Linked DNA regions of Homo sapiens. The protein of the gene in region 3 interacts with the protein of the main gene of each other region in a pairwise test. Each region holds a gene or a part of one and is shown on either strand. Other genes may lie near its edges. The genes, in order: UBE2R2, UBR3, DZIP3 and BIRC3.

What was found.
Region 1: the proteins of DZIP3 (region 3) and UBE2R2 interact in a two-hybrid assay, tested with the Homo sapiens proteins (one large-scale study listed by BioGRID and IntAct).
Region 2: the proteins of DZIP3 (region 3) and UBR3 interact in a two-hybrid assay, tested with the Homo sapiens proteins (one large-scale study listed by BioGRID and IntAct).
Region 4: the proteins of DZIP3 (region 3) and BIRC3 interact in a two-hybrid assay, tested with the Homo sapiens proteins (one large-scale study listed by BioGRID and IntAct).

The regions. Positions count from the first base shown.
Region 1 is NC_000009.12:33,911,419-33,919,385, forward strand, and holds part of UBE2R2 (ubiquitin-conjugating enzyme E2 R2), read left to right. Parts: intron 1-545; coding exon 546-680; intron 681-5,599; coding exon 5,600-5,819; 3' UTR 5,820-7,967. UniProt on the Homo sapiens protein: E2 ubiquitin-conjugating enzyme that accepts ubiquitin from an E1 ubiquitin-activating protein, and catalyzes its covalent attachment to other proteins by an E3 ubiquitin-protein ligase complex.
Region 2 is NC_000002.12:169,918,467-169,926,433, reverse strand, and holds part of UBR3 (E3 ubiquitin-protein ligase UBR3), read right to left. Parts: intron 2,506-7,967; coding exon 2,440-2,505; intron 2,351-2,439; coding exon 2,261-2,350; intron 816-2,260; coding exon 687-815; intron 1-686. UniProt on the Homo sapiens protein: E3 ubiquitin-protein ligase which is a component of the N-end rule pathway. Does not bind to proteins bearing specific N-terminal residues that are destabilizing according to the N-end rule, leading to their ubiquitination and subsequent degradation.
Region 3 is NC_000003.12:108,639,833-108,647,799, reverse strand, and holds part of DZIP3 (E3 ubiquitin-protein ligase DZIP3), read right to left. Parts: intron 5,363-7,967; coding exon 5,286-5,362; intron 3,637-5,285; coding exon 3,019-3,636; intron 1,184-3,018; coding exon 1,151-1,183; intron 1-1,150. UniProt on the Homo sapiens protein: E3 Ubiquitin ligase proteins mediate ubiquitination and subsequent proteasomal degradation of target proteins.
Region 4 is NC_000011.10:102,330,984-102,338,950, reverse strand, and holds part of BIRC3 (baculoviral IAP repeat-containing protein 3), read right to left. Parts: intron 7,953-7,967; coding exon 7,710-7,952; intron 2,986-7,709; coding exon 2,731-2,985; intron 2,192-2,730; coding exon 2,150-2,191; intron 2,043-2,149; coding exon 1,849-2,042; 3' UTR 1-1,848. UniProt on the Homo sapiens protein: Multi-functional protein which regulates not only caspases and apoptosis, but also modulates inflammatory signaling and immunity, mitogenic kinase signaling and cell proliferation, as well as cell invasion and metastasis.

The DNA.
Region 1 (7,967 bases), on a different chromosome or scaffold from region 3:
AAAAAAAAAAAAAAAAACCTGGTTATATAGAATAGCATCATTTTTACCAGCTCCCACATCAAGATTGCCTTGAAACTAAATATTTTAAGCTTTTTCCCCCATGCCATTTAATTTGTAATTTTTAAAATAAACAGTATTTGAAAGCTTCTAAGACATCTGCTTTCTGTAGGTTGGAACATGTGACCAGTTGAAACAGGGCCTTCTATCAAGTTCATTTTTATGCTTTGTGCATTACCCTTATACTAGAATCACTTGTGCATTACCCTTATACTAGAATCACAGATTTCCTCTGCTTTGCCTGCCAGTTAGCAGCTTGTTTCTTAGTGCTGAAAAAAATTTTTTTTTATTTTTCTTAAATGCCTTTTATGAAAACTATCAATAAAAAATTTATATCTCTATTCCCCCAAGGTCTTAAATTTAATTGTATCAGAAAAATTTTAAGGGAGGGAGAATTTGAAATCTGATTGTACTATCTTAAAAAGCAGAATACTTTTAAATACTGTAAATATGGGTATTCATAGCTGATCCTTTTTTCCTGTTTCTAGGACTATCCTATTAAGTGTAATCTCACTGCTTAATGAGCCCAACACCTTCTCCCCAGCCAATGTCGATGCTTCAGTTATGTTCAGGAAATGGAGAGACAGTAAAGGAAAAGACAAAGAATATGCTGAAATTATTAGGTAAGGTTTTTTTTTTTATTACCTCAAGTTATACAAAACCAAAATATATTCTGGAACCAAGGGTTTAAATCAAACTTAAATATCCTGTCCATTCCAGGATAATTTTCCTCTATTAGATTTATAGTGTGGGAAGAGAAGATTTCTGCCTGAGCCTAAAGAACTTTGCTGTTTACCGAGAGAACAGCCACTAGAAGATAAGGCAGTAGCAGACCTGATTTTCTAGGAACCAGAACTTCTAGGTTCTGGCCAGGCATGGTGGCTCATGCCTGTAATCCCAGCACTTTGGGAGGCTGAGGCAGGCGGATCACCTGAGGTCAGGAGTTCGAGACCGGCTGGCCAACATGGTGAAACCCTGTCTCTACTAAAAATACAAAAATTAGCCAGGTGTGGTGGTGCACACCTGTCATCCCAGCTACTCAGGAGGCTGAGGCAGGAGAATTGCTTGAACCCGGGAGTTGAATGTTGCAGTGAGCTGAGATCACACCACTGCACTCCAGCCTGGGCGACAGTGCGAGACTCCATCTCAAAAAAAAAAAAAAATTGAATAAATAAAGCCTTCCAGTTTATTGGCATTCCTGACCATAGCAGCAAGGATTGTTTGGAAATCCTCATTATCAGCAACACTAATGTATGGTATAACAGAGCCCTAGAATAAGATTCAGGGGACTTGGAATCTACTCATGGGACCATTTATCAGATAATTTTTGGGGTCTTTTACTTTCTCCTCTGTATAAAATGGAAAAAAGCTTAACCTTTAATCTCTTAGGACATCAGGTTCTTATAATAGTACCCAAGAAATTTGCAATAAATACAAACCCTACACTTCCCCTACCCTCCACCTCTTTTTTATTTGTTTCTAATTAATTTTTTTTTTCTTTTTGAGATGGAGTCTTACTCTGTCATCCAGGCCGGAGTGCAGTGGTGTGATCTCGGCTCACTGCAGCCTCTATCTCCTGGGTTCAAGCAATTCTCCTGCCTCAGCCTCCCGAGTAGCTGGGATTATAGGCGCCTACCACCATGCCCAGCTAATTTTTGGATTTTTAGTAGTGACAGGGTTTCACCATGTTGGCCAAGCTAGTCTCGAACTCCTGACCTCATGATCCACCCGCCTTGGCCTCCCAAAGTGCTGGAATTACAGGCGTGAGCCACTGCACTCAGCCTCCTCCACCTCTTTTTAAAGAAACAGACATGGTCTTACTCTGTTGCCTGGGCTGGAGTGCAATGGTGTGATTACATGGTAACTTCAAATTCCCGGGCTCAGGCAGTCCTCCCACCTGGGCCTCCTGAGTAACTAAGACTATAGGCATGCACCACCACACCCAGCTAATTTCTATTATTATTTTTGTAGAGATGAGGTCTTGCTGTGTTGCCCAGCCTGGTCTTGAACTCTTGGCCTCAAGTGATCCTCCTGCCTCAGCCTCCCAAAGCTCTGGGATTATAGGTGTGAGCCACCGTGCCTGGCCTCCACCCCCCTTGATATTACATTTTTATTTCTTAAAATAGAGACCCCAAATACAGTTACAGCTTCCTCTGTGCATAGGAGTTGACTAAGCATTGGCATTTATACAAATAAGAATAAAATCTAGTTGGCTTGAGACCATGTGATATGAAAAAAGTTAAAACAATGCTGGGAAAGGACATGAGGTGACTGCTGAGTAATATAAAATCAGCAGTTCTAAGTTTTCTGCCCATTGGGATCACTTTTAAACTGTCCCTAAACAATAGCTGTCTTTTATGGGATTACAAGGACAGAGTTTGGGCATCTGTGTGTGTATATATATCTCACCTAGGTGACTGATGTGTACCAAACATTGAAGATAATTAGTAGAAATATTAAGATCCTACAGAAATTTAGAGGAGTGGGAGTGTACTAAGGATTGAAAGATCAGAAAGCTTAGGTATACATATTCCCAAGGTACTTCTATATATTTCTTAATTTGTTTAAGGGTCCGTTTATCTCATTCTATCTATTCCTTAATGACCTAGTACAGTACCTGACACTAAGCAACAGCTTTGTGTTAGGTACTCATTAAGGCATAGCCTGTCTCCTTAGGGAGCTCACTTTATTAGCATTTGAAAACAAATGACCATGTAGTATTATACCTATAGAAGCCTAAACAAGATACACTGGGAGAAATATATAATGTAATAGATTTCCTAGCAGAGATAATTCCTTATAACCAATACTTTTTCAGGTGAAAAAAGGGAAAATACCCATGTTTGCTAAAATACAGGAGTATAACAGCATGACATGTTAAGGGGATTACAAATGCTTGAGTGTAAATTCTGATGTGGGAAATATTAGAAAATTAAGCAAGAGAGGCACCAGGGTCTTCAAAGACATTGAAGTCATGATAAGAGTATGGTTCTTAATGTAAGAAGTGATGGGGTACCACTTAAATATTTTTGGGAGGGAAGAGGTGATGCTATTTGAGTTCTGATAAAAGAATTGGCTGCCTGGTGTGGTAGCTCACACCTGTAATCCCAACATTTTGAGGCGGGTGGATCACCTGAGGTCAAGAGTTCGAGACCAACCTGGCCAACATGGTGAAATCCCATCTCTACCAAAAAATATAAAAGTTAGTTGGGCATAGTGGCACACACCTGTAATCCCAGCTACTCGGGAGGCTGAAGGCAAGAGAATTGCTTGAACCCGGGAGGCAGAGGTTGCAGTGAGCTGAGATCGCGCCACTGCACTCCAGCCTGGGAAACAAAGCAAGACACCGTCTCAAAAGAAAAAAAAAAAAAAGACAGTCAGCTGGGCACAGTGGCTCACGCCTGTAATCCCAGGACTTTGGGAGGCCGAGGCGGGCAGATTGCTTGAGCCCAGGAGTTTGAGACAAGCCTGGGCAACATGGCAAAATACCATCTCTACAAAAAAATTAGCCAGGAGAGGTGGCTTATACCTGTAATCCCAGCTACTTGGGAGTCTGAGGTGGGAGGATTGCTTGAGCTCTGGAGCCAGAGGTTGCAATGAGCTGAGATTGCGTCACTGTGCTCTAGCCTGGGTGACAGTGGGAGACCTTGTCTCAAAAAAAAAAAAAAAATCAAATAGTTGGCCAGGGGACCAACATGGACTAAACTGAGGTAGTAGTAATGGGGATGAGGGGACAGATATAAAAATATTTAAGCTGTAAAGCAATAGGTCTTTGGAGTGAGATTTATTATTTTAAGAAGCAATGCTCATTTATTCAGAGAAGTAAAATGGGAGAAACTGTCCATAGAGGTAGAAAATGCATATGCAGTCTACCTCTGCATATGGAACATTAGGACAGAGGCTTCCAAAAGGCATTTGTTTATATAAGCCAAGAGCTGTCAGCATAAAGGGAGTGGTGGTTAAAATTATGGGAACAGAGATGATGTCCCAGGGAGAGTGCTGAGAGTGTGGAGATTGAAGCCCAGAAGCCTCAGGACCATCAATATTCAAAGCAAGGCAACAGAAGAAAAGCTTCAAGCACAACTAAGAGATTGACATTAGGAAGATCAGGAAGAGTGGTCTAGTCTTGATGACTCAAATTTTTATAATTGTTGAAGGAAACAATTTATTGTTTGTTCATTCATACAATCAGTATTTATTGCACACCTCTTATGTGCCAGGCTATGTGCTAGGCACTGACTGGGGAAATGGGACTAAGAAAGACATTTACGCTCACATTCAAATATGTGGAGACAGAAGAGTGAGCAAGCAAAAAATACTAGATAGTGCTAAGTAGGATAATGTGAAAGAATGACTAGATGGCTGCTTTAAATTGGGTTGTCAGGCCAGGCCTTCTCTAAGGTGATATTTAAGCCTTAATATCTGAGGCCGTGATTCTGAGTGACAGGAAGGAGCCAGGCATGTGTGGGGCAGGGGAAGAGCAACTGGTCCAGACAGAAAAATCAACAAGGTGTGTCCGAGATGCCAAAAAAAGACCAGGGTGAATGTGTTGAAGGGCTGGAGAAAATACAAGAGTGGGTCATGTGGCCGGGTGCAGTGGCTCATGCCTGTAATCCCAACACTTTGGGAAGCCGAGGTGGGCAGATCATGAGGCCAGGAGTTCGAGACCAGCCTGGCCAACATGGTGAAACCCCATCTCTACTAAAAATACAAAATTTAGCCCGGTGGGGTGGCGGGAGCCTGTAATCTCAGCTACTTGGGAGGCTGAGGCAGGAGAATTGCTTGAACCTGGGAGATGGAGGTTGCAGTGGGCCGAGATCACGCCGCTGCACTCCAGCCTGGGTGACAGAGCAAGACTCCGTCTTGGGTGGGGAAGAGTGGGTCGTGCAAGACACTGGAATCTGGCATAGGCATTTGAATTTTACTGTCAGTGAAAATTAAGAGGATAATTAAATTAAGAATTGTTGGGGCACTTGAGTTTGGTGGTGAGGTGACTAGGCCAAAACCCTAGCCAATCCCCTAAGCACCCCACCCCACATTAAACCAGAGTGGGACGTTTTATTCACATATGCAACCTTTATGATCTAGCCCCAAGAAACTAGGAGGCGTATTAGCCCTTCTATTATCTATTCTTATTCTGGCAGTTATCCCTGTGCTTCACACATGCAAACAACAAAGCATGACATTCCGCCCACTAAGTCAATACCTGTTCTGATTCTTAAGTCGCCGACCTATTGGCCCTTACATGAATCGGAGGACAGCCAGTTGACGAGGTGATTCTGGCTATAATTGATCCACTGCTTTAAACTCCCTTGATATTAACAGTGTATTTCCCCTCCTAAAAAGTCAAAGTTTACTTCAAAATTGTACCCAGTGGGTTGAAAGCATTTGGTGTAGTACAGGGTATCTGTCAGATGCTTTCAGGCAGGTACTGAAGTTTGGAGAGCTGAGTCATAAGTAATATTGATTATTTAAGGCCAATTATAAATCTGTCTTAAAAAAAGACTTACCGTAAACCATTTCTGTGTCAACCTCCCTTCAGGAAACAAGTTTCAGCCACTAAGGCCGAAGCAGAAAAGGATGGAGTGAAGGTCCCCACAACCCTGGCGGAATACTGCATCAAAACTAAAGTGCCTTCCAATGACAACAGCTCAGATTTGCTTTACGACGACTTGTATGATGACGACATTGATGATGAAGATGAGGAGGAGGAAGATGCCGACTGTTATGATGATGATGATTCTGGGAATGAGGAGTCGTGACGTGCTCCTTCAGTGCCCCTGTACTGCCCTGCCATCTCAGGCCAAAGGGAGGGGAGCAAGTGGGGACCTGGCCATGGCCCCTCAGCAAAAACCTATTCACAGCGGGTGGGGAAACACACACAGCTCCTGCTGACTCCCCTTATGGATCTCAGTTTGCTCCTTTTTATGGACCTTTAATGGAGAGAGAGTAACCCTCCACAGAATGTCTGAATTCTTGCATTCTTTACCCTTCCATCACTATATTGATTCTTTTTTTAAAAAATATGAACCCAAACTCCCGCCTCACTTCGTCTCTACAGAATGTTCACAGCAAAACACGTTTGGTCTGTTTTTAGATTCTTGAAGAATTCAATAGTCTTTCAAGATGTTTAATGTGTTTAAAGCTGGGAACCTGTTGGGAGTTCACAAGTGCTGCATATACTGGGTAGCAAAAGAAAATGGAAAAAAACCCACAAAACAAACTTTAAAAAAAAAAAAAAACAAATTTGCCAAGGTTTAGCTGCTCATTTACATTAGTGTGTGTGCATTCGTTCAGCCCCATGGTGGTGAATTCTGTTTCTTTCCTTTCCTAAGGCTGGGACATGGTGGGCATCAGGGACTTTGTGCTAAGCCTGATGAAATGTGCTCCTTCAATCTCCATGAAACCATCGTAACATGGAGGCCTCAGCTGCTCTGAGGAGAGAAATCAGACTTTGTTTTTTGAAATCGATTGGGATCGAAAGCCTGAAATAAATATTCATACTTTCCATAGAACTGAGCACTTGGTTGCTATTTATTTTAAAGGCAGGGTTATTTCCCCCCAGGGAGTGGGGCAAGCGGGGAAGTTGGGATGAGTGCGTGTGGGAGCAAAGAGTTAAAAATCACTATGCTAAGTTTGGTTGATGCTACTGGGGGGAAAAAGTTGAAACTACTGGTGACCACTGTTGGGAGAGGAAACATCTGTTTTATAGATTTAGCATGGCCTTCCCATCAAAAATACACTCGTACCATGACGTTTTGTTTTTGTTTTTTAAGTAGCCACTTTTAATTACTCAGTATTAATCCTAGGTGCATGTGTTAAGATTTCGGTTTTCATCGAGCTGCTTATACTGATAGTGAAAAACTTGGATGTGTGTGAGACGAGTTACCGCCTTCTTCATTGGATGTGATCTGAACTTTTTTTCTCCTTTCAACATACTTAGGCTGTGGAGTGCAAGCAGAATTATGCATAGAAATTGTGGCAGGGCTGAGGGAGTTGACTGCAGGCAGTTTTTAGGCCAGATAAGGCTAGATCTTCCTGCAATGCACTTGCTGCAGCTTTGATTTTCCAGATCTCAATCGTGTTGCTTCAATCAATATTGAGATCCAGCAGCCTTCACCATCCAGGAGACTTCAGAACTTGAAGGTAATTTTTGGTTGTTATGGGGGTGCACCAGATCATAGGAGGGCATTATTTGGAGGAAACCGCTATAATGTAAAATCAGATTTCAGAAGGAAAATGCAGCAAGGACTGACTGTAGTCCTATTTCAGACCCCTGGGCACTAGTGTCAACTCCTCCTTTGGCTCGTAACTCAGAAAGAACCAAAGGGCAGATTAGGGACGGGGCAGGAGGGATCCTAGGATGGCCAGAGTAGGTGACGCTTACTTCCTTAGCTCCTCCTTCCATTCTGATCTCAGGGTTTTCACTCTTCAAACTCCCAAACACATGACTTCTTCCCAGCAGCCCTTCCCGGCCTCTAAAGTTTGGTCCCAGCAGCCCTTCCCAGCCTCTAAAGTTTGGTCTGGTATGAAATGGGACTGTTTAACAAGCAAGGCTCTTAGGGGACACTGTTGAGCCTGGTCCCAGAATCTGTGATCTCCACAGGGCCAGGGTTGCTACTTGCACCCAGAATCTAGTGATTTTAGTCAGATCCATGGAACAGAGCAGCTTCGTAATACATTGTCAAGTTACCTGATTACAAACTCTCATAGATGTTGGAACTACCTTTTTACTCCCCATACTTTGTAAGTAATGCTTCCAGATTAACCTGCAAATCTTGTGGAGCCAAAGCCTCTCACAGTGCTGATTTACCTCCCCCAAAATGCCCCCAAACCCCCATGCAAGTTTACAGCCAGTAGCTTGGTCTTATTCTCTTGGAGCCCTAAAATTAAGCCTTTCATTCCCCTTT
Region 2 (7,967 bases), on a different chromosome or scaffold from region 3:
GTATTTTTAGTAGAGACAGGGTTTCGACGTGTTGGCCAGGCTGGTCTCAAACTCCTGGCCTCAAGTGATCTGCCTGCCTTGGCCTCCCAGAGTGCTGGGATAACAGGCATGAGCCACCACGCCTGGCTATGATTTTTATTTTCTGTATATTATGATGTTTTGACATCTTGAGGGGCATTACAGACCTGAAGACAGATAGTCCCTCCCAGAGCCAGTTAATTCCTGAACATACTAAACAACTTACTTGGGAAAATGCCTGTCATGCAAGCCAACCACTGTCTTTATCTAACTCTCACACATCAACCCAGTATTTCCCCTCCCCTAAATCAACCCAGGGCCAGGTACCGCAGAGCCAGATACAGCCCCTATGCCTCAAAGCCTGCTGGAATTATTCAAATTAGCCAATCCTGCCTTGCCTTTCCTTGCCTTTCCTGCAGAAACCCCAATAAAGGCTCTGGCCTAGGCTCTCCCCTCACTCCTTTCTGCCTCTTGACCAAAATCTGGTGCTTTCCTTGTAGCCTTGTGTTGGGTGGTATGCCTCTTCTCCTGGGAAATGTAAGTAAAAAATTATTCTTTCAATGGCATTGGCCTCTCCATGTCATCACGCAGTCACCTCTATAAATTAAAATCCCTTGGGTACAAATGAGACACTTCTAAAGTATATCTGCATTATCTAGCTGGCTTACCTGTAACAGGTAAATGTCAGGATCAATCATGGAATTACAGAAATGAGACTGGACATACGTCATGGCTTGTCCTTTGATTTGCAGACCATTTCTTACCCACATATTGCTGTGGATTTCTGCAAGACTTGCCTAATAAAAGTAAATTGGACAAAGAATAAATTATCTAAATGCAATCTTTACAAAATATTATAAATAACCATTTCAAAATATTTAATGATGTGATCATAGTATAAGCCCGATATTCTGTCCAATGTTAAAGATAATCAGTTGAAATATACATTTTTACATTTTTTTTAACAATAATTATGTTTTTACATAGCCACTTTTTTAGAGTTTAAACAAATGAGTTGGTTTTCCATGTTGGCCTCTGGATACATTTATGATGATTTTCACTGACATCTTTCATAAGAAATCAATGCTTATGTTTCACTCTATTTCTCCCTCAAGAAAACCCTAAGTAACAACAACAACAATCCTAATATACATGTTTAAAGAAAGACACTAGAATAAGCATAAAATAAAACCAACTGTTCAAAGTCAATGAATACATTCTACATCTTTAATTCACCCTAACTCAATCTTAAATCTATACTGCTAATTTTCCAAATATTGGAGGTTAGAATAAATGTTCTCACTACATCAGTATTTAATTCTTCATGTATTTATGTCCAGTGTCAACTAAAACTAGGCAGTCATCATTTTTTTTGTTTTTTTTGAAACAGAATCTCACTCTGTCGCCAGACTGGAGTGCAGTGGCGCGATCTTGGCCCACTGCAACCTCTGTCTCCCAGGTTCAAGCAATTCTTCTTGCCTCAGCCTCCCGAGTAGCTGGGACTACAGGTGCACGCCACCATGCCCAGCTAATTTTTGTATATTCAGTAGAGACAAGGTTTCACCATGTTGGCCAGGATGGTCTCGATTTCTTGACCTCGTGATCTGCCCGCCTTGGCCTCCCAAAGTGCTGGAATTACAGGCGTGAGCCACCACACCTGGCTTCAAGCAGTCATAATTTTATGTTTCCTAACACCCAGAGTTCAAGTTCAATATTATAATAATTAACAAATCTAAAATTGCCAGGAAAAACAAATGGAAGTGCAAGTCCCTCTAATGTATATAAAAAGCTGGCCTGTCAAATTACATTGCTGGTATTAAAAGAAATCACAGTGCTTATATAAGCTAATTCTTCTCTCCTCTTTCTCCTCTCACTATACAGATAGGGAAACTGAGAATCAAGGAGGTGAATTACCTTAAACCTTGCGGAAAATAAAACAGTGGTAGCACCAAGGCTAGAATCTTTTGGATCTCCTGACTCCCAAAACAGTGCTATATAGTATGTTAAATACCACCCCATAAGCAAATATCATGAAAAGAATTCCTGGAAAAAGTAAAACTAAAAAGTAAATCTCATAAAATGAAAAATACCTAAACATAATCTAGCAAAAATACAATAACAACTTTTTAAAAAAAGTTTTCAAACATCTCAGCTATAATAACAATGAAAGGCATATAAATAAAGGAAGAATCACTTAAACAAGGAATCCACTTCAAAACTTTTTAAATGCCTGAATACATACTTGAATTTGGAGTGGGTGAATCATTAGTTTCATTAACATTTCCTGATCTGGTAAAACAGAATCCAAATCTAGTTCTTGACATTTCACAGCCTAAAAATTACAATAAAAAAGTTACTAATTCAATTCTTATTTCTGAAAATTAAAAAAAAAAGAACAGAATTGTTTAATGACAGTCTTACCTTACTCAAAAACATAGCATAGTAACGATGTAGTGGCAGATGAAAAGTGACTTGGTTAGGTGCTGGCTGGAATAAACAAACAAAATGCACAAGTCAAAGACTATTTTATAGAAATTTTAAGATGGTTGTAAAATGTTTAAACCATACTCTCACCTGGATTTATTCCTATACTTTTAGTTCAAAACTTAACATTTTAGAAGATGCAGATTCCAAAATCACTATAGATAAAATTTTTCCATTTTAAACACTTAAGTATAAGTTTCTTGAAGGCAGAAATTGTATTCTACTCAACTTTGAATCCTCTGAAGCATCCAGTACAGATTAATATTTCCTAAATTCAATTCAGCTAAAGCAAATAATTATTATTAAAACAAGGGATGGAATGGATTTCCAGCTACAGTAGACCATTTGGGACTCTTCAAACGCATGTATACCAAACATCATGACAGTAATAACAGTCACATATAACATTCATTGAACACTTCCTATGTGCCAGTCACCATGCTAAGCACTTTATTCACATTACCACATTTAATCCTCAGAAGAATGCTATGGGGTAGGAGCTACTAATATTCTCATTCTACAAGTAGCAAAATTCAAACTTAGAAAACTTAACTAACTTCCTAAAGTTCAAAAGTAGTGAACTGGGGAGCTAATCTGGACTCCACTGTCATATTCAAAACTGTAAGAAGACTCTGACCACATCCCTAAACAGAGGTATAAATGCAGGGCATCGTTAGATTCCTTCACCAGTTAGATAAGATGCTTCCAAACAGTACCAAACGCACCAGCCTCCATAACAAAACTTCATAAAAAATATGTGAATGACCTTAGGCATTCCTGTAAATATTACAAAAACTGTATTTTAAATCTGTGAATCCCATGGATCACAAAATCACTACAGGGCAAAAATACACCACAGCTGTCCTTCTTAAACAAATGAGTTAAGAACTGAAAAGGTATTGTTTGTTTTTAATGCTTTTTAAGTTCTTATTAAATATTCTCTTGTTAAAAATGTTTATCCCGGACATTCAGATAATTATGCTAATGTATATAATTTACATTATAGAGGTTATAAGGAGTCTAAATATGTCACCATCCCTGAAATAATTATTTTTTTCAAAACCAGTAAGATAATAATATCCTCTTCAATATGTAAAGGCTATAAAAATTTGTTCTAATAAATAAAAGTTTGCCCTCCATAAAAAGAAAGGAAAGTCTAACAATGTTCTGTAACATGAATAAACCTTCGGGATATTATGCTAAGTAAAATAAGCCAGTCACAAAAAGACAGTAACTATATGATTCCACCTATATGAGGTTCTTAGAGCAGCCAAATTCGTAGAGATACAAAGTAGAATGGTGGTTGCCAGAAGCTGGGGGAAGAGGAAATGGGGAGTAGCTATTTAATGAGTATAGTTTCAATTTTATGAGATAAAAAAGTTATGGAGATTGGCTGCACGACAATACAAATACACATAACACTACTGAACTATACACTTAAAAATGATTAAGATAGTGAATTTTATGTTTTCTGTGTATTTTACCACAATTAAAAATAAAATTTTAAAAAGTTTGCCCTCCATTACCATAATCGCCTTAGTAACATATTCTACACTAACTAGCTAAGTCAGAATCTCCCTCAATTTCCTTTGAGGCACTAAGCACAGTGGATAAGTGCAGACTCTTTTTTTTTTTTTTTTTTTAAATAGACAGGGTCTCACTCTGTGGCCCAGGGTGGAGTATGGTGGCACGATCACAGTTCGCTGCAACCTCCACCTCCCGGGCTCAAGTCATCCTCCCTCCTCGGCCCCCTGAGCAGCTGGGACTACAGACACACACCACCATGCCTGGCTAATTTCTGTTTTTGGTAGAGACAGGGTTTTTGCCATGTTGCCCAGACTGCTCTCGAACTCCTGGGCTCATGCAATCTGCCCGCCTCAGCCTCCCAAAGGATTGGAATTATAGACGTGAACCACCAGGCCCAGCCTAGGTGCAGACCCTTTTTTTGAGTCTCGCACTGTCCCCCAGACTGGAGTACGGTGGCGCGATCTCAGCTCACTGCAACCTCTGCCTCCCGGGTTCAAGCAATTCTCCTGCCTCAGCCTCCTGAGTAGCTGGGACTACAGGCATGTATTACCACACCGGCTAATTTTTGTATTTTTAGTAGAGACAGGGTTTCACCATGTTGCCCAGGCTGGTCTCAAACACCTGACCTCAAGTGATCCACCTGCCTCGGCCTCCCAAAGTGCTGGGACCAAAGGCGTGAACCACTGTGCCTGCTTCCTAAGTGCAGAATCCTGGTTCTACCACCCAGCTGTAAAACTATGGGCAAGTTACCTCTCTGTGCCTAAGTTGTCTGATCCTTAAAGTAGGAATAATAAAGAGTTTAGTAGCTGCGAGAAATAAGTAAAACAGCACAGTACCCAGTACATATTGCTATTAACTAGTAAGCCATGGACCCTATTTTATCTTTCAGGGCTTTAGCATATCCTATGTTCACATTCTCCATAACGTTAAAGTCCATATTCCTTCCTTGTCTAATGTCACAGACTGGCTACTTGATAAGCACTTCTTCTATTCCTATATATACTGAGAGTCCTTGGATTCCATTCTTCACTCTATAGTCTTCTATGTGAATTTATCCAGATTCACAGCTTCAGCTGCTAACTCTACCCAGATGAGTTCCAAATCTCAGTGGAAATCTCACTCCTGAACTCCAAATCTTACATTCAGGTGTCTACTGAACAGCAATACTTAATATTCCATAGGACCACAAATACAGCGTGTCCAAACCAAACTCAGTATCTTTGCCATAAAACTCAATCCTCCTCAATATTTCTTCTCCAGATTCCCAGTAATTTAAATATGAAATGTAGACTTCCTCCTTCTCACAAGCCTCCTATATTTGATGAGGTATCAAATTATGTTTACTTATTTTTTAAGTATCTCTTAAATCCACTTTCTTCTTTCTGTCTACACTGCACCTAACTAACCTTAGCTCAGGCCCTCAACACCTAGTGCCTAGATTTTAGTGATAACCCCTACTTCTACCATTATCCTGCATAAAACACCTTTTGTGGTGTCTGCCTAGCTCACAACCTTCCCATCTTCTCAGAATGTGTCTCCCTCTCCCACTCTCTGCCACCTCAACCACACACAGAGATTGGGGCCTGACAGTCAAGTTTATAGTAGCCATACTTGACTGGAGGCAGGGCAGGGGACATCTACCCCCGCTTGAGCAATGACTTTCTCTCTTAAAAAATTTGAACTAGGATTCAGAGACATTCACAGACAATCTGGGAGTATGCCTGAAATGGTAACGTTAGGCAACTATAAAAAGGCAGTATTTCACCACATAGGCAAAGCACAGGAAGGGAAGAAAAAATGAGGCACATACACTCAGGGCAAAGCAAAGGCAGGCGACAGGAGTTCCTATTCAGATTTCCAGTCCATCCCTGAGGTCCAGGTGCCCTAACCCTGAGACATCCCTATGTATTCATAATAAATTACTGCTTTTACTTTATTATTATACTTTAAGTTTTAGGGTACATGTGCACAATGTGCAGGTTTGTTACATATGTATACATGTGCCATGTTGGTGTGCTGCACCCATTAACTCTTCATTTAACATTAGGTATATCTCCTAATGCTGTCCCTCTCCCCTCCCTCCACCCCACAACAGGCCCTGGTGTGTGACGTTCCCCTTCCTGTGTCCGTGTGTTCTCATTGTTCAATTCCCACCTATGAGTGAGAACATGCGGTGTTTGGTTTTTTGTCCTTGCAATAGTTTGCTGAGAATGATGGTTTCTAGCTTCATCCATGTCCCTACAAAGGACATGAACTCATCATTTTTTATGGCTGGAATATACACATATTCCATGGCGTATATCTGCCACGTTTTCTTAATCCACTCTATCATTGTTGGACATTTGGGTTGGTTCCAAGTCTTTGCTATTGTGAATAGTGCCGCTATAAACATACGTGTGCATGTGTCTTTATAGAGGCATGATTTATAACCCTTTGGGTATATACCCAGTCATGGGATGGCTGGGTCAAATGGTATTTCTAGTTCTAGATCCCTGAGGAATCGCCACACTGACTTCCACAATGGTTGAACTAGTTTACAGTCCCACCAACAGTGTAAAAGTGTTCCTATTTCTCCACATCCTCTCCAGCACCTGTTGTTTCCTGACTTTTTAATGACTGCCATTCTAACTGGTGTGAGATGGTATCTAATTGTGGTTTTGATTTGCATTTCTCTGATGGCCAGTGATGATGAGCATTTTTTCATGTGTCTTTTGGCTGCATAAATGTCTTCTTTTGAGAAGTGTCTGTTCATATCCTTTGCCCACTTTTTGATGGGGTTGTTTGCTTTTTTCTTGTAAGTTTGTTTAAGTTCATTGTAGATTCTGGATGAACCTTTGTCAGATGAGTAGACTGCAAAAATTTTCTCCCATTCTGTAGGTTGCCTGTTCACTCTGATCGTAGTTTCTTCTGCTGTCCAGAAGCTCTTTAGTTTAATTAGATCCCATTTGTCAATTTTGGCTTTTGTTGCCATTGCTTTTGGTGTTTTAGACATGAAATTACTGCTTCTTTAACTCAGGCTGCTTTAAATTATTTTTTCCCCTTGCATTAAAAGAACCTTGACTAACATATCTCCTATTACCCTCTATATGCTGCCAGAAGGTAGTCTTACTTAAACATTAATTTAACCTTGAACTTCTTCCACTCACAATCTTTTAATGACTCCCTATGGTTTTAGCCTCCTGATAACCTTCCAATTCCTAAGAAGAAAGAGCTTACCTCTCCAGCCTCATCTTCTGTCACATAAATTCATGCACCATAGGTAGTATCCCTAACTTACTAAGCTTCTGTGCCTTTGTATACACTATTCCCCCTGCCGCAAATGCTATATATCCCTTCTCCCACTGGATTACTGTATCTTTAAGACTTTGCTCAGTTGACACTTCTACTAAGAAGCTTTTCTTGGGTTCTTCAGGCTAAATCAGGTGCTCCCTTTTATGGTCCCACATAGCACCTGGTCACAACTTTACAGAAGCACAGGAATCAAATTAACCATATACTTGTTTTCCACTTCCTTAAGTCAGGGACTGTTTTATCACTGTATCCCCTATGTTTACAACATAGTAAACATTCAATAAATATTTGCTGGATGAATGCACGTTCTACTTTCCTCTTACCAGAGGACTCTAGCCAAACCCACCCTGCTACAAACTCACAATTGTTGCCCTACATGATATTCATGTTTTTAAGAACTCTTAAATGGCCTATCTTATAGGAAAATGTATTCCATCTCCTGTTTCTATATGATTGTTTGATCTGGCTTACTTCAGTTCAAAACATATTATTGGCCAGGCACAATGGCTCACACCTGTAATCTCAACACTTTGGGAGGCCCAGGCAGGAGAATCACCTGAGCCCAAGTGTTCAAGACCAGCCTGGGCAAGATGGCGAGACCCTGTCTTAAAAAAAAAAAAAAAAATTATTTGCTTGATTTGTACTAG
Region 3 (7,967 bases):
GTGATGTTCATTTATCAGTTACCAAATAATATGTACAAACACCAGCCTGGAACTAATCAGTGTGAACCTGAGTGCTATGTTACCTACTGGAATCTTAGGTAGACTCTAGATATTAGATACTCTAGAACATAAGTAGACTCTAAATACTAACTTTTTGCATGTCCTGACCTTGATCCTATTAATAATGCAACTAGTATTATTTTAGCACATATATCTGAAATATAAAGAAAAAGAAGACAAAAGATCTATTTTTTCTGTTTTCTTTTTCATAAGAGGGGTGTGAGCCCCCTATTATGTGACCTTTTCTTTGAGACTTTGCTCCTTGATATTGCCCCAGAGACTCAGTCTCAAAACTTGTGGACTTTGTCTGACTGGTCTCCAGAGAGTCCAGCATTTTATCCCAAACAAATCTGTGGTGGTGTTTTTTTTAAGTATAATTTTAATTGAATAATATTAATTACACTTAAAAAAAATAGCACAAAAATGGAAATTAAACAATTACAACTTATCACCTGGCAAAAAAAGTATATAGCTATAAACAATAGACAGACTAAATAAAGTTATACACGCTAAACACCAAACAGAGAAAGCAGGAAGGTATTTTTGCCTGCTGAAGTTTTTGTGAGTAAAACGTTAGAACATCATCCTTGGGAAAACCCTGAAGCACATGCACTAAGCCAAAGGCAGAATAAAGCTCATTCTCGATTCAGCCAGACCAGTGGTGATTTGATCACATCATTTTCCAAGTTCTTTTTTTTTGAGACTGAATCTCGCTCTGTCGCCCAGGCTGGAATGCAGTGGCGTGATCTTGGCTCACTGCAACCTCTGCCTTCCATGTTCAAGCAATTTTCCTGCCTCAGCCTCTTGAGTAGCTGGGACTACAGGCACCCGCCACCACACCTGGCTAATTTTTGTATTTTTAGTAGAGACGGGGTTTCACCATGTTGGCCAAGATGGTCTCGATCTCCTGACCTTGTGATCCACCTGCCTCAGCCTCCCAAAGTACAGGGATTATAGGCGTGAGCCACTGCGCCTGGCCCAAGTTCTTCACAATTATAGTTTATCATTTAGTTTATCTGAACAAATAAAAATTTCATAGGTATCCCTTGTTAAAAAGTCATTTACACATTTTATTTCTAAATATACTTACGCTGACTGCCTGTTATTGACTGTAGAGCAATTCCTATAATACATAAAGAAAAATTTTAGATGTACAATTGCAAACGCAACAAATGAATGTCTGGCTAGGATTAAGGCAGAATATTTTTATATTGCACCAATTTATTCTGTAAGTAACTGGAAAAATAACCAGCTTTGCTCATCAATCCAGTTTAGACAAGGCACAATCTTTAGATTATCACATAAAGGTTATAAACCCATGATTAGAGAAAAAAAAGTAAACAAAAATGTGGTATCACAGATAAAGCCTAGAACACAAGCACTTTAAACCAAGCAACGAATATTTATGTTTACCATCTAAGGCCATGAAATAATAGTTAATTACACAGCAAACCTCCACTGAAAGTTGGGACCTATTTTTAGCAATCTGATTTATCTGATCATCACTTGCTCTCCTTGCCCATTAATATTTATTGAGCACCTACAATGTACATCAGGCTGTGTTAAGCTCTAGAGATTGAATGGTGAAGAAAAAAAAAGACAATCTTCATGGAGATTTAGTGGGATGATGGATGTTAATCAAATTATCAGATATCCAAATAAAAAGCAACTAGAATAGCTGAGGAAAGAAATATAAGATGGTAAGAAAGCCTCTAGTAAAGGGACTTGACCAATAAGCTCTTCAGTGTACTTGAGTAAGAACTGCTTAAAATGCTTTGAATTGAATGGGTGCTCAAAACTCTTTCTCAAATACTCTATTCTCATGAATTATTTAAAATCCTAATAGAGTAAATGTATTTTTTAAAACCCTAATTTATAAGTCAAAAATTCTTGCCTGACTTTCTTATATATCAAACTCAGTGTCCTCCTCTTTCATTCTTAGATTATGCAAGAAAACAAAGGTATTCCAGAGCCTTAGTAAATACCAGGACTGAAATTGGGCACATCAATTATCTCTGAAGAAAATCTGGACCAGTTCACTAGAAACTTTTACAGTTGTATGTTTATATAGCATCAGTGTGGTTATCAGTTGTTCATTAGGCTGTAAATAACTTGAGACCAGGAAGTCATCCTGAATAGCACAGCAGGGTTTCAGAGATGTTGTCATGCCTTGAACTCTGCTTTCCAAAAGAATAGCTGAGAAGGTATCCTGAGATGTGGGAAAGGAGGTCTGAAGTCTTTTCCGTATCAATAGACAAGTTTGGGAGTGGCCAATACAAACACTTGCATGAATGTTACCTGATTTTTAAAATTATCTACAGCCAATGAATAGCTGCTAAAATTGTAAACTAAACAAGATTCTGCTAGAAAGTAGAAGAAACATACATCCACACTGTGTCTAAACGAACATCTTTGAAACCACACAGTACTTACATGTCATGGTTTTAAACTTTATTAATTTTGGAGAATAAAACTCCACTTAAAGTGATAAAACTGTACTCAAAAGTCTTCAACAATTTCTTTCTGAAAAATGCAGACTCCTTAATGTGACAAAAAAATCCTCTTGAATGTACTCTATGAACTCTCCCCTACTTTAATCTCAATGAAGCCAACATTTTTTAGTTGCCTGCAGTATATTTTTATGTTTCTATACCTTTATTTTTGTTTCCCTCTGAAACATTCTTCTCAGTCTGCTTCACCTGGCTAACTTCTGCACACCATTAATAGTTCTTTAACTATGATACTCTCCAGAAAGCTTTTTTGGACTTCTTTAGCCTAGGATTTCCCATGGTATTCTGGAAACATCTCTAGCACTATAATTTCTATTACCTTCCTGATGAGTCCATTTTCCCAAAACCATGAGCTCACTGAATCTCTTGCCCTTTGCACTGTGCCTGGCACAGAGCAGACATTCAATCAATGGAAGTTTATTGGCTGAAGTAAATAATCATTTAGTACCTTGTTGATAGCAGGATAACATCCTCTGTATGATTTCTGGTACTGGTATGCCTAGGTAGACAGATAGCTGATGGTAATCAAGGGAGATATTCTCAATGGGATTCTCCTTCACTTTGTCAATATCCTCTTGCATCATCCCAAGGCGCAGAAGAATATCTGAAACTTTTTTCCAAATTGAATTGAACTGTGACTCAGTGAGACCATTCATCAAAATCTCACTAAGGAGGATATCCCTGTATTTGCACAGTCTCAGGATGTCTGCAGATTTAGAGATGTCAGAAGATGGCGGTTCCATATTCCATCCTTTTTTGGGTGCAGGGAACACATTTAAATGTTTTATAAGAGCTAACAGGAGGCATAAGTCAAACTGTTTGGATTGCGGTAACTCCTTGTTAGGAGGATAAAGCAGATGCCATGATCCACCCAAAGGATGATTGGTCCAAAGATGGTTGTAGTAGGATTCCAGCACATTCTTGTGTATAAGAAGCTCTTTTTTCAAAAGAGGAGGTGGCATAGCCTCATCAAATATTTGTCGAACAATGTCAGTACCAGAAATAATAATTATATGAAGCAGATGATAGAAATAATTATAATCAAGCTTGAAGATAGGCATTTCATCTGAAAATAAATTTTGAGAAGTCAAGACATTCCACATTAATGCTCATTTTCTATTTGGTCTCTCACATTGTATCCTAAGCTCCTGTAGGATAAAAACTATTCCAAAAGAATGAAGGATAGTACAGTGCTTTGCCACAGCCAGTGCTCAATTAGCATGCTGCTTTCTGCCTGTCAAAAAACCTAAACAAAAACAACATGTTCCCAAGCAAAAGTAATAACAAAGACTAATCACCACAGAAGTCTTTCAGTCATCCAAGGTTTTGTTCAAGTAAATGACCTTTAGCAACAACATGGCATCACAGTATTAGGTCTTTAAAAATTCTGAAATTTGCCAAGAATGCTAATTGTCAATGTCTAACTATACTTTACTTAAACAATTATACTTTATCCTAATCAGCACTGCCCAATGGAACGTCATGTGATAAAATGTTTTATATTTGCACTAATACTCACTGAGCATTGGAAATGCGGTTTGGGTGACTAAGGAACTGAATTTTAAATTTAATTTTAATTAATTTAAATTTAAGTAGCCACATACAGCTAGGGACTGCTATACTAGATAGCTCAGATCTATATCAAGAAATGCCAAAAGATCTAGCTCCTTGCTACTCAAAGGGTAGCCCAGAGACCAGCAGCATCAAGCATCCACCTGAAAGCCTGTTAGGAAAGCACAGTCTCAGGCCCCACTCTAGACCTACTGAAATCTGCCTTTTAACAAAATTGCCGGATATTTCAAATATATGTATAATGCTTGAGAAACTGTGATCTAATAAACCTCATCTTCTCACCCCCTCAAAAAAAGATAAGTAGGTATTTCATCAATAACATGGAATAAGGCATGAAACTGAACTATTTGGTATTTTCCTGTTTTAACAGTGCTTTCAAAGGAGAAAAGTCGGCTGAAGTGAATTAGAAAGTACTAATAATTTAGTATATAATGGCATTTGGTGTTATATGGATATCAAAATATGTGTTTGTCACAAAATGCAGCCTTATTATTTTATCCTTCAAGATTCTATGTTTCAAGAGATTTATTAAATTAACGTTTTTGCTTGAAATACTTGATATACATTGTGGAGGCAAGTTAAAAAGCTAATGACACAGGGAGCTTTCTTTGGGTTACCAAATAAAAAGTTGGCTGGACTGCCACCAAACTATTCTTCTATGGGCCCAGGGTCCCTTAATTAAGGCCTCCAGGTTCTGGGCAGGACATTTCCTAGCACACTCCTAAGAAGCTGGCAGCTTAGTTTAGATTACTTAGCCTCAAAACTTGGCCTCAAACTCAAAATGTTCATTCCTTTCATGTAAGGGTACTCTAATGCTTGCTCTATTAAGAAGGAATGCAGCAAGGGAAGGAACAGTTGGTAGAAAACCTCTGCTGGAACACAATCCCACGGTATAGTCACAGCTATGCACCAGACCTAGCATGCCTCTCTATAGGATGTCAAGGTAATGTGAGATCCATAGATGTGCTGATCTTCCTGTCTGTGATTTCCAGCCTACACCAAGCGCTGCTTGCTGGTATAAACCCAAGCTCAGTGAATGACAAACACAGTAAAGACGTGGTTGTTAATGGCATGAAAGTTGACAGAGAAGTCAAAAATTTTAACATACTTTTCAACAGAAGGCATATAAAAATAAAATAATACCTTTTGTATTAAATTTTAAACTGATCTTCGGTCTTATATCAGTATCAGTTATTTTCAGAGATATCAACTTTCTATAACTGCAAAAGGAAAAAAATTAAGTTATAGTGGAAATAAAATAATACCAAAGTCAGTCAAGATTTCTAGTATGAGCATGGCTAAGTGAGTATTTTCATCTTCTCCTAGAAATAATTCAAGAAGGAGAAAAAATAATGAACAAATAGAGCTCACCAACAATGAAAACCCTACACTGTCACTTTCATTGGAATTATCAAGTAAGCAGTATTGCCAGATTTCATACTAAAACTATCACATTACAAACTTCCTTGCAAAAAGGCTGTGTGGTAGCAGAAAAAAAAGGAAAGAAAGCTTTGCATTGTAAGACAAAAAAAGCAAGCAAGCAAACAAAAAAATAGCAAATCTGGAAGTCCTCCCTGGCCCTCTCTTCACCATATAATATTTTTGGCAATAACTATTCCAAGAAACCCCAACTCATTTAACACCTACTGATTAAAAACAATAAAGATGCTAGTAGAACATCAATACAAATAATTAGAAAAATAAAAAATAAAGTAGCAAAATGTATTAACTAGACTAAGCACTAGGTAAATGCTGCCGTTAAACAGATGGCTTGGCTTTGAAATGAACCACGGAAAACAAAACAAAAAAATATTGGACAACAACGCTACAATGTAAGCTTAATGAGGAAAGGGATTTTGGTGGTGGTTGTTATTGTTAACTGATTCTATCTCCAGTACCACTATAACACTGTTAGTTGCACATTACATTGAAAAAATGTAAAACTCTGACAATATGAAGTTATTGGGGAAGATACTGAGTAAAAGGTATCTCCCATACTGTTGGTGGGGAGTGTACATTTGTAAAACCACTCTGGAAAACAATTTGGCAAAAGCTAGTAAAGTTATAGATATACACAGGTGGCCTAGCAATTCTACTTTTAGGTATATATTCTGGAAAATTTTCTGCTCATATTGACCTAGCGACATGTACAAGAGTGTTCACTGCAAAACTATTGTTATAGCCAGGACCTAGAAATAAACATCTGTTAATGGTAGAATAATTAAATTAGTGAAGCAATAATATAAAATTAGAGCAATAAAAATGAAAACACTACAACTATAATAGTAAGAATGGAATCACACTAAATATGATTTTAAAATGCATAAAACAAATGTTTCCATATATAATGTTCAAAACAGAAAAAATTAAACTACACTTATAAGTAACAATATATTATGTAATTTATAAAGTAAGTAGAAGTAAAACATATGAAAACAATAGCACAAAAGAGGGAAGAAATGGAAATCTATTATTGCAAGGTTCTTACACTATACATGCTGTGGTATAATTATTTTAAAATAAACTTTGACAAGTTAAAAATATGTATTGTAAGTCCTCAAGCAACCACTAAAAAAGGGTAAAACTAATAAACCAAACCAGAAAATAAACAATAAAGACAGATAGGGAAAACTAAAAACAACAAGGAAGACAGTAGATTTCCAACCATATAAATTAGTAAAGAAAATACAAATGGAATAAAAAAAAAACAATTTAAAAGCAGAGATTGTCATATTGTATATATAAAACAACAAAGACCTATGCCACCTACAAAGAAATACATAGGTTGAAGTAAATGGATGCAAAAGGATATACCATGCAAACACTAATCAAAAGAAAGCTGGAGTAGCTATATTAATATCAGACAAAAAACACTTAAGGCAAGAATATTATCAGGGTTAAAAAGAGATGTTAAGGCCGAGCATGGTGGCTCATGCCTGTAATCCCAGCACTTTGGGAGGCCGAAGAGGGTGGATCACGAGGTCAGAAGATGAAGACCATCCTAGCCAATGTGGTGAAACCCCGTCTCTACTAAAAATACAAAAATTAGCTGGGTGTGGTGGTGTGCACCTGTAGTCTCAGCTACTCAGGAGGCTGAGGCAGGAGAATCACTTGAACCTGGGAGGTGGAGATTGCAGTGAGCCGAGATCGTGCCACTGCACTCCAACCTGGGTGACAGGGCGAGACTCCGTCTCAAAAAAAAAAAAAAAAGGATGTTAAATAAGAATAAAGGAGTCAAATTGTCAAAAAAAAAAAAAAAAAGGTAACAATTCTAGATGTGTGTGTAGCATTTAATAAGAGTTTCTAGATATACAATTAGACAGTAGACAAAAAAAAAATGAATAGTATACTTCAACATTCCCTGAGTAACTGATAGAAAAAGTAAATAATCAAAAATGACATAGAATGCTGAAACAGAGCTGTAAACTAATTTCATCTAATGTACAGACTATTTCATTCAAGATCAGAAGACACATTATTTACAAATCCAAGTAGAACATTCACCAAGATATACAGTAGTATGATCATAAAATAAATTATTGCAAAGGAATTAAACTAAAAGTGAATATCTGGAAAGAGAGCTGAAATATTCCCAAACATTTGGCAATTAAACAAATACTCCTAAAGAGCCCATGGTTAAAACATACACACACACACAAAACTAGAAAACATTTAAAATACACTGAAAATATTAATAATAAATTTCTACACATCAAAACATATGGGGCAGCTAAAGCAATGCTTAATGTAAAATCAGTTTATAAAGAACAAAGGTCTCGAATCAATGATCAAAACTTTCACCTTAAAAAAAAATCAAAGCAAATT
Region 4 (7,967 bases), on a different chromosome or scaffold from region 3:
GGGGCTCAGAAAACCCAAAGTGAAGGCCTCAGAAGCAAAGTTTTTCTCTGATGTTATCCTGCCCTCCTGTCTCAGCCTCATTCTCCCTGAAGGCAAGCCACAGAAACTTGAATTCCTCTTCCCCAAGGTAGGTCATAGAAACTGGAACCATCTTTCCACAATGCCAGACTTACATCTTAAAGATAGTACTCTAATCTTTCCTCACCTAACTATGTAAGAGCTGGCCATAAATAAATTCTCTGACCTACCTTGCTTGATAGCAGGTTATAATATCCCCATCCCATACAGGCCCTGCCCTATATCCAGGAGGAAGGAATGCTGCACAGAGACCAAGAATAATCTGAACAGACAGGCCTTGCTGGGTCCCCAACCTGTGTCTATTCCCATTAGATCATATCCTTTTTTTCCAATCACTATTCTTCAGGGCTGTCCATTCATTATCAAACCTAAGCATAAAAATGCACAGTTTCCCCTGTAATTTTGGATCTTCATTACGAAGGCTCCCCGGTGATGTAAATCTGTGATTAAATAAATTTGTTAAGTTTTTCTCTTGTTAACCTGTCTTTTGTTATAGGATTGTCAGCTGTGACCCTTATGAAGGGGTCTTTCCCTTCTGCCCTTACAGAGCCATCTGCCCCTATACAGACATCTAGAACTGGTTTAGATGACTAGCCTTTGCCTGCCTTCCCCTGAGTATTCCCTATTACAGTCTTACTTCTGCTCTTGAAGACCTAATACCTCTATAAGAAGCAAAGGACAGAGTTATGACTCGGACGTGTTGAGTACCAATAACATAATGCAGAGGGGGACATTTTGTTGCACTGACAATATGAAACAGATTTATTTACCAGAACAACCTGTTGGTCCCAAGCATTGCTAACCAGTGTACTTTCTAAGTTTCAGAATTAATACCAAAGAGATAAGAATAAAACTCAGACCTTCTTCCAATAGGTGGGGCTGGCATGAGACTTCTTGAATGAATCAATAGAGAAGTGAATAAACAAACTTACTAAAGGGACTGTTTGATTCTTGTCTCAGGCATTCCATAATAGATTTTATGATGTGTTGACCCCGTGTTCTACAAGTGTCAATGAAGAAGCATCTTATGGGAAGGAGTATAAACTGTAGTTCAATATTTGAGAGGCTTTAAGAAGGTATGGAAAGAGTCTGGGAGTGACTAAACTATCCAATGTCATTGAAATAAAGCAATGAAGAATAAGAGTAATTTTTGTTGCTTTATTAAATTTTTTCTCACAGAATTCTTTATAAAAACACCATGTCCCTAAAATGTCATTCAACATATATGCACACCTTCGATGTATAGGACACTGATCAAAAAAGACAGAGAAATGTGTCCCTGGTGTTTTGTTTTTGTTCTGTTTGTTTTTAAAGGCAGGGTCTCAGTATGCTGCCCAGGATGGATTCAAACTCCTGGGCTCAAGTAATTCTCTTGCCTCAGCCTGGGACTACAGGCACATACCACCACACCTGGCTTCATGTTCCCGGTATTAGTACAATGCCAAAATATTTAAAATTCTTAAAGGTTAACTCAAATATCTTAAGTTTTACTTCACTTACAATTTCAATAATGCTGAAATTTTGATTGAATATTGTGTTTGTAGTGCTACCTCTTTTTCGTTCATAAGAACAAAAGCCTATCATTCTCTTAGTTTCTAAAAAATATATGTTCATATGGTTTAGATACATATATAAATATGTTACACAAAACAATGTTTTTTGAGTTGTAAATAAATAAAAATTTTAAGGAAACCAAATTAGGATAAAAGTTAAAGTTATAATACATTTAATAAATTAATTCTAAAGTTTAGACGATGTTTTGGTTCTTCTTCATGAAAGAAATGTACGAACTGTACCCTTGATTGTACTCCTACAAATAGGACACTTTCTTAAAGAAGGAGCACAATCTTTGCATACTACTAGATGACCACAAGGAATAAACACTATGGACACTTCTTTGTCCATACACACTTTACATGTTCTTTCTTCTTGTAGTCTCCGCAATTGTTCTTCCACTGGTAGATCTAGAAAGAGGAAAGAATTTTTAATAAAAGGCAGTTTGCTTCTTCAGTGAAAAACTAAGAAAATAAAGACAATGTTCTCTATTGATTTAAAATATTAGTACTATTACCTGAAACATCTTCTGTGGGAATATATTTTATGTCCTGTTGCACTAAGGGAGAAAAAGAAAAAGCATTACTATGACAAATAAGGTTAATATTTAGCTATGGAATCTATTTTAAAAATGAACACTTTAGACTATAGCCAAATACTCATTTCAAGGCAACAGAAGTCTTTAATCTTTTTATGTAACTAATATCTATAAATTAGATTGATTTTTTTTTGAGACAGAGTCTGTCACCCAAGCTGGAGTGCAGTGGCACAATCACAGCTCATGGGAGCCTCTATCTCTCAGGCTTAAGCCATCCTCCCACCTCATCCTCTTGAGTAGCTGGGATTACCAGGCATACACCATCACAAATAATTTGTTTTAAAAATTTTTTGTAGTGATGGGGTCTCGCCACGTTGTCCAGTCTGGTCTCAAACTCCTGGGCTCAAGCAATCCACCTGCCTCAGCCTCCCAAGGTGTTAGGATTACAGGCATGAGTCACCACATTCAGCCTGAATTATTTTCAGTAGTCATAAATTATTAATAAGAGCGTATTTTCAATTGACTTAGAAAATTTTTAAAAATAATTTTCTATCACTCACCAAATAAATGCTCATATAACACAGCTTCAGCTTCTTGCAGAGAGTTTCTGAATACAGTGGCTGCAATATTTCCTTTTACTAAAATCGTATCAATCAGTTCTCTTGCTTGTAAAGACGTCTGTGTCTTCTGTTTAATAACATCATGTTCTTGTTCATTAATAATTCCGGCAGTTAGTAGACTATCCAGGATTGGAATTACACAAGTCAAATGTTGAAAAAGTGCCATTCTATTCTTCCGGATTAATAATAAATCATCTTTATAAAAAAGAAAACAAGCATAAACATGTTCAAACTCTGCTCACAAACTTCCTTCCAGTCCTATATATATAGCAGGATAAAAACTATCTTTAATTCGTAATCAGTAAGGCATTGATGTTGATTGCTAGGTTTAGGGGTGTCTCATCTCCTTTGCTTAATAATAATGTTATTATAATTATAATCCAGGGTGCAGTGGCACATGCCTGTAGCACCAGCTACTTGGGAGGCTGAGGTAGGAGGATCACTTGAGCCCTGGAGTCAGAGACCAGACTGGGCAACATAGCAATACCCTGTCTTAAAAAAATATAATAATAATAATAATAATGCTACTTATAGTAAGGACTAACATTTAGTGAGCACTGTGTTAAGAACTTTACATGTATTGATTCATTTCATCTTCACAACAGCTCTTTGAGGTAGGTCCTAATAGCCTCATTTAACAAATGAGAAAATGAAGCTGCAGTGAGGCAATTAAGTTGCCGAAGGACACCACAACTAGCAAAAATCAAACTGAGGTAGTCTGGTGTCATGTACTGTGCTTTCAATCATTTGGCAATACTGCTAAGCCTTTAACCAAATGGAACTTAGAACCCATTAAAATTGACGTTTCAATTCAATCTAGTCAAATTGGGGAAAGACAAAATCAAGAGAATTAAAACAATTTTTTCTTAAAGTGTCATTCTTCCATAAAATTTCTTTTATTATTTATTTATTCATTTTTAAAACAGAGTCTTGCTCTGTCGCCCAGGCTGGAGTGCAGTGGTGCGATCTCAGCTCACTGCAACCTCTGCCTCCCAGGTTAAAGCTATTTTTGTGCCTGAGCCTCCTGAGTAGTTGGGATTACAGGCATGTGCCACTACATCCAGCTAATTTTTTGTAGTTTTAGTAGAGATGAGGTTTCACCATGTTGGCCAGCCTGGTCTCGAACTCCTGGCCTCGAGTGATCCGCCCACTCCGGCCTCCAAAAGTGCTGGGATTACAAGTGTGAGCCATTATGTCCGGCCCATAAAATTTCTTTAAAATTCCATTTTAAGTTGAAATTTTAATTATTTCCAGAAATTAGACATATTGCCATTACCTAAATATTTTATAGTAAGCAGGGAAAGGCAGTAACAGCATTTTGAATAATAAACCCTATTTGTCAACGACTACCTTCTCGTCCTACAAGATATCATCTAATTCTCCTTCAAGACCTAGATTTTGTATCCATTGGTAAAACATTTTATATTTTAAAACTGCAGTTTTATTATCTCTTTGGAATATAACTTATGAATCTAAGTTTATTAATTTTCATATAGCTTACCATAATCCATAAAGCTGTTTCTAAAAAATAACTAATGACAGAGGCTGAGCTATCTGAAGAATTGTTTTGGGAGAGAGGATTGTTAGATTTTAGATACACTGACTTTGTCAAGTGATAGGACTCATAAAAAGAACCATTTAAGAAAGAATAAAAAATGGAAAAAAGAAAACAGCAAAAATCAAAAACAACAACCAGAAAATAAAGATGATGCTTAGTCAAAAAGACAAGGCTAAAGACATATTTTGAAAATAATGGAAGCTCTGAGAATAAATGAGAAAAGGGTCAGGAGCTAGAATAGTGTCTGGCACAAAGTTAATGCTCCATAAATATCTGTTGAACAAATGAACAATCAAACCTTAGTTCTATAATTTAAAGAGTAGGAATGAAAAGTAATGGTGAGAGGGGTAGAAGACTTAGAACTTAATATATTTTGTTAAATTATTTCTATTAGCAAAGTAGGGATATATTAGAAAATAAAAATACAAACTTGGTGTTGAAGTATACTAGTTTTTCAATCTAAGATTTATTTTTGTAATTATACGTAACCTAATATAATGCATTCTCTGAAGTTCTTAAGATTTCTAAAATTTAATTGCTAGTAACTGAGAAAAAGTCTCATTTCAAAGTTGTAGACTATATTCTGGTTTGCAAGTTCAGAAGACTTGAGTAGCTGGGATTACCAGGCATACACCATCACAAATACTTTGTTTTAAAAATTTTTTGTAGTGATGGGGTCTCGCCACGTTGTCCAGTCTGGTCTCAAACTCCTGGGCTCAAGCAATCCACCTGCCTCAGCCTCCCAAGGTGTTAGGATTACAGGCATGAGTCACCACATTCAGCCTGAATTAAAACAATTTTTTCTTAAAGTATCATTCTTCCATAAAATTTCTTTTATTATTTATTTATTCATTTTTAAAACAGAGTCTTGCTCTGTCACCCAGGCTGGAGTGCAGCGGTGCGATCTCAGCTCACTGCAACCTCTGCCTCCCAGGTTCAAGCTATTTTTGTACCTGAGCCTCCTGAGTAGTTGCCTTTGAAGCATATTATTAATTTTGTTTTTGCTTTTCTTTCTTTCTTTTTTTTTTTTCTTTTAGAGAGTGTCTCACTCTGTTGCCCAGGCTGGAATGCAGTGGCATATGATCATAGCTCATTGCAGCCTCAACCTCCCTGGGCTCAAGTGGTCCTCCCACCTCAGCCTCCTGAGTAGAGCTGGGACTACAGACACATGCCACCACACCCTGCTAATTTTTATATTTGTTTATACAGACAGGGTTTTGCTATGTTGCCCAGCCTGGTCTTGAACTCCTGGGCTTAAGCGATCTGCCTGCCTCAGCCTCCCAAAGTGCTGTGATTACAGGTGTGAGCCACCACACTCAGCCATATTATTATTTTATTCTGGGAAAAAAAAAATCTTAAATTACCTCTTTATTTATATCCCTACTATTCTTGGGAAACTATAACGTAATCATTAACCTAAATGTGTTTTCATTCACTCACTCACAACACAGACTATATGCAGGCACGATACTAGGTAGTAGAGATATATATATAATGGTGAGGCAGAAACGCTAAGGGCTCTTTTTCACAATGTAAATTATTATATATTGTTGACTTGAAGTCATTTCTGGAGACTTTTCTGATTGTCTTTGAAAGAAATATAAATATTTTATAAGTGGATAGTTTTAGATTTTATGGGGTCTCTCAACAGTTGTGGAGATAAGTGTTCTCTTCTTTGAGCAATTGTTGGCTGATGACAAATGGCTACCACTAAGAAGGCTACAGGAAGGACATGCTTGCCTAATCTTCACAGAGAAAAGAGAATTTGATGAGGCTGGGCAAAGGTTAACCGTGACTGTATTGCTGCTACACTAGTGGTTTATAGACTGAGTAATTCACACTTTGGTGAATGTATGATGCTATATCACTATGGTCTGATAGGTTTGTCTGGGTTGGGTCAGAGAACAAATCCATCTTCATGGGCAGGGTTGGATTTATCCCTAAATGAAGTGGACAATCTGACTGTCAATCATCCTGTGAAGAAATAGATCCCAGATGGCCTTGCACAAGGATAAGGAGAAATCTTTATTCTCCTTCTGAGCTTTATGAATATTGGGGGGGCCTGAATTTTGATAAAGGAAAACATTATTGGGACATTCCTAGTGACTTGTGTAAACTTGCCAAAGCTACACAGAGATGAACCAGAAGCTAGGCAGGGGAGATTTATGAGGATGAGCCCGGGGGCACTAAGAGAGGTCACAGCTAGTTGCAGCTGTAAATCAACATTTGTGATATAATTCCCTTCCGTTTTCCTTAAGTCTCCAGTAAGAGCTTGTTAAAAGTTGCAGTCTGTTTTCAGCTGTGTTGAAGGGACTTATAGGTCTGGTCCATGCTTGGGAAAGGAGAGATCAGCATTTCTTTTTGTCTAGGACAGAATGATGATAGCAGTCAAAACAGCCAGATGAGAATGTATGTGCCCAGAAGAGTTTTTGTGAAGGGCAATAGAGAACATAGTGGATACGTTTAGTATGGAAGGACATGAACAACTTGTCCTAAGAGATTGTGAAACAGTATACTAGGACTTGCCTAAATAATCGACGGATGCTCTGGAAGACTCAGTTCTTGTGTGGACAGGTAGGGGACTTAATAGTAATTTGTGTATTAATGTATAGTCACAGGCTAAGACATGCTTTTATGCTAACATTAAAATTAATAACCATCCAGCCAGGCACGGTGGCTCATGCCTGTAATCCCAGCACTTTGGGAGGCCGAGGCGGGCGGATCACTTGAGGTCAGGAGTTTGAGACCAGTGTGGCCAACATGGAGAAATCCCTTCTCTACTAAAAATACAAAAATTAGCCTGGCATGGTGGCAGGTGCCTGTAATCCCAGCTAAGGGAAGGAGGCACGAGAATTGCTTGAACCCAGGAGGCAGAAGTTGCAGTGAGTTGAGATCATGCCACTGCACTCCAGCATGGGTGACAGAGTAAGACTGTCTCAAAAAAAAATTAATAATTGTCCCTGATCCCACCCTGATTTACTCCAAAGGGGAGTGAGCAACTAGCCTGGGATTAAAAATGTGCCATGATGCAACAAGGATTCCATTTTCAAAGCGTTAAGAAAAAAAAAATGTGCCATGAATGCATAATTGGACACAACGTCAGCTATCCAGAGAAAAAAATATGAATTAAGGAAAAACATGAAAAATACTTTTGTACATCATACATTTTTGACTTATGAGCAACTCAAATATATTTGAATATGAATAAATTTTTCAGCATTTGAATTCAGAATACTAAACATGAAAAAAACCTGACTGGATTGAGTATATTTTCAGATATGCTAGATGAGTATATTTTTCATAACATATAGACTGATATCAAATCCTTATGAAAATAGACTGTATTAATAAATCTACATACTTGATTCTTTTTCCTCAGTTGCTCTTTCTCTCTCCTCTTCCCTTATTTCATCTTCTGCATTGAGTAAGTCTAACACAAGATCATTGACTAGTCTATAATTCTCTCCAGTTGCTAGGATTTTTCTCTGAACTGTCTGTTTTACCAGGCTTCTACTAAAGCCCATTTCCACGGCAGCATTAATCACAGGAGTATTCATCATGATTGCATCTTCTGAATGGTCTTCTCCAGGTTCAAAATGGATAACTATATGGAACAAAG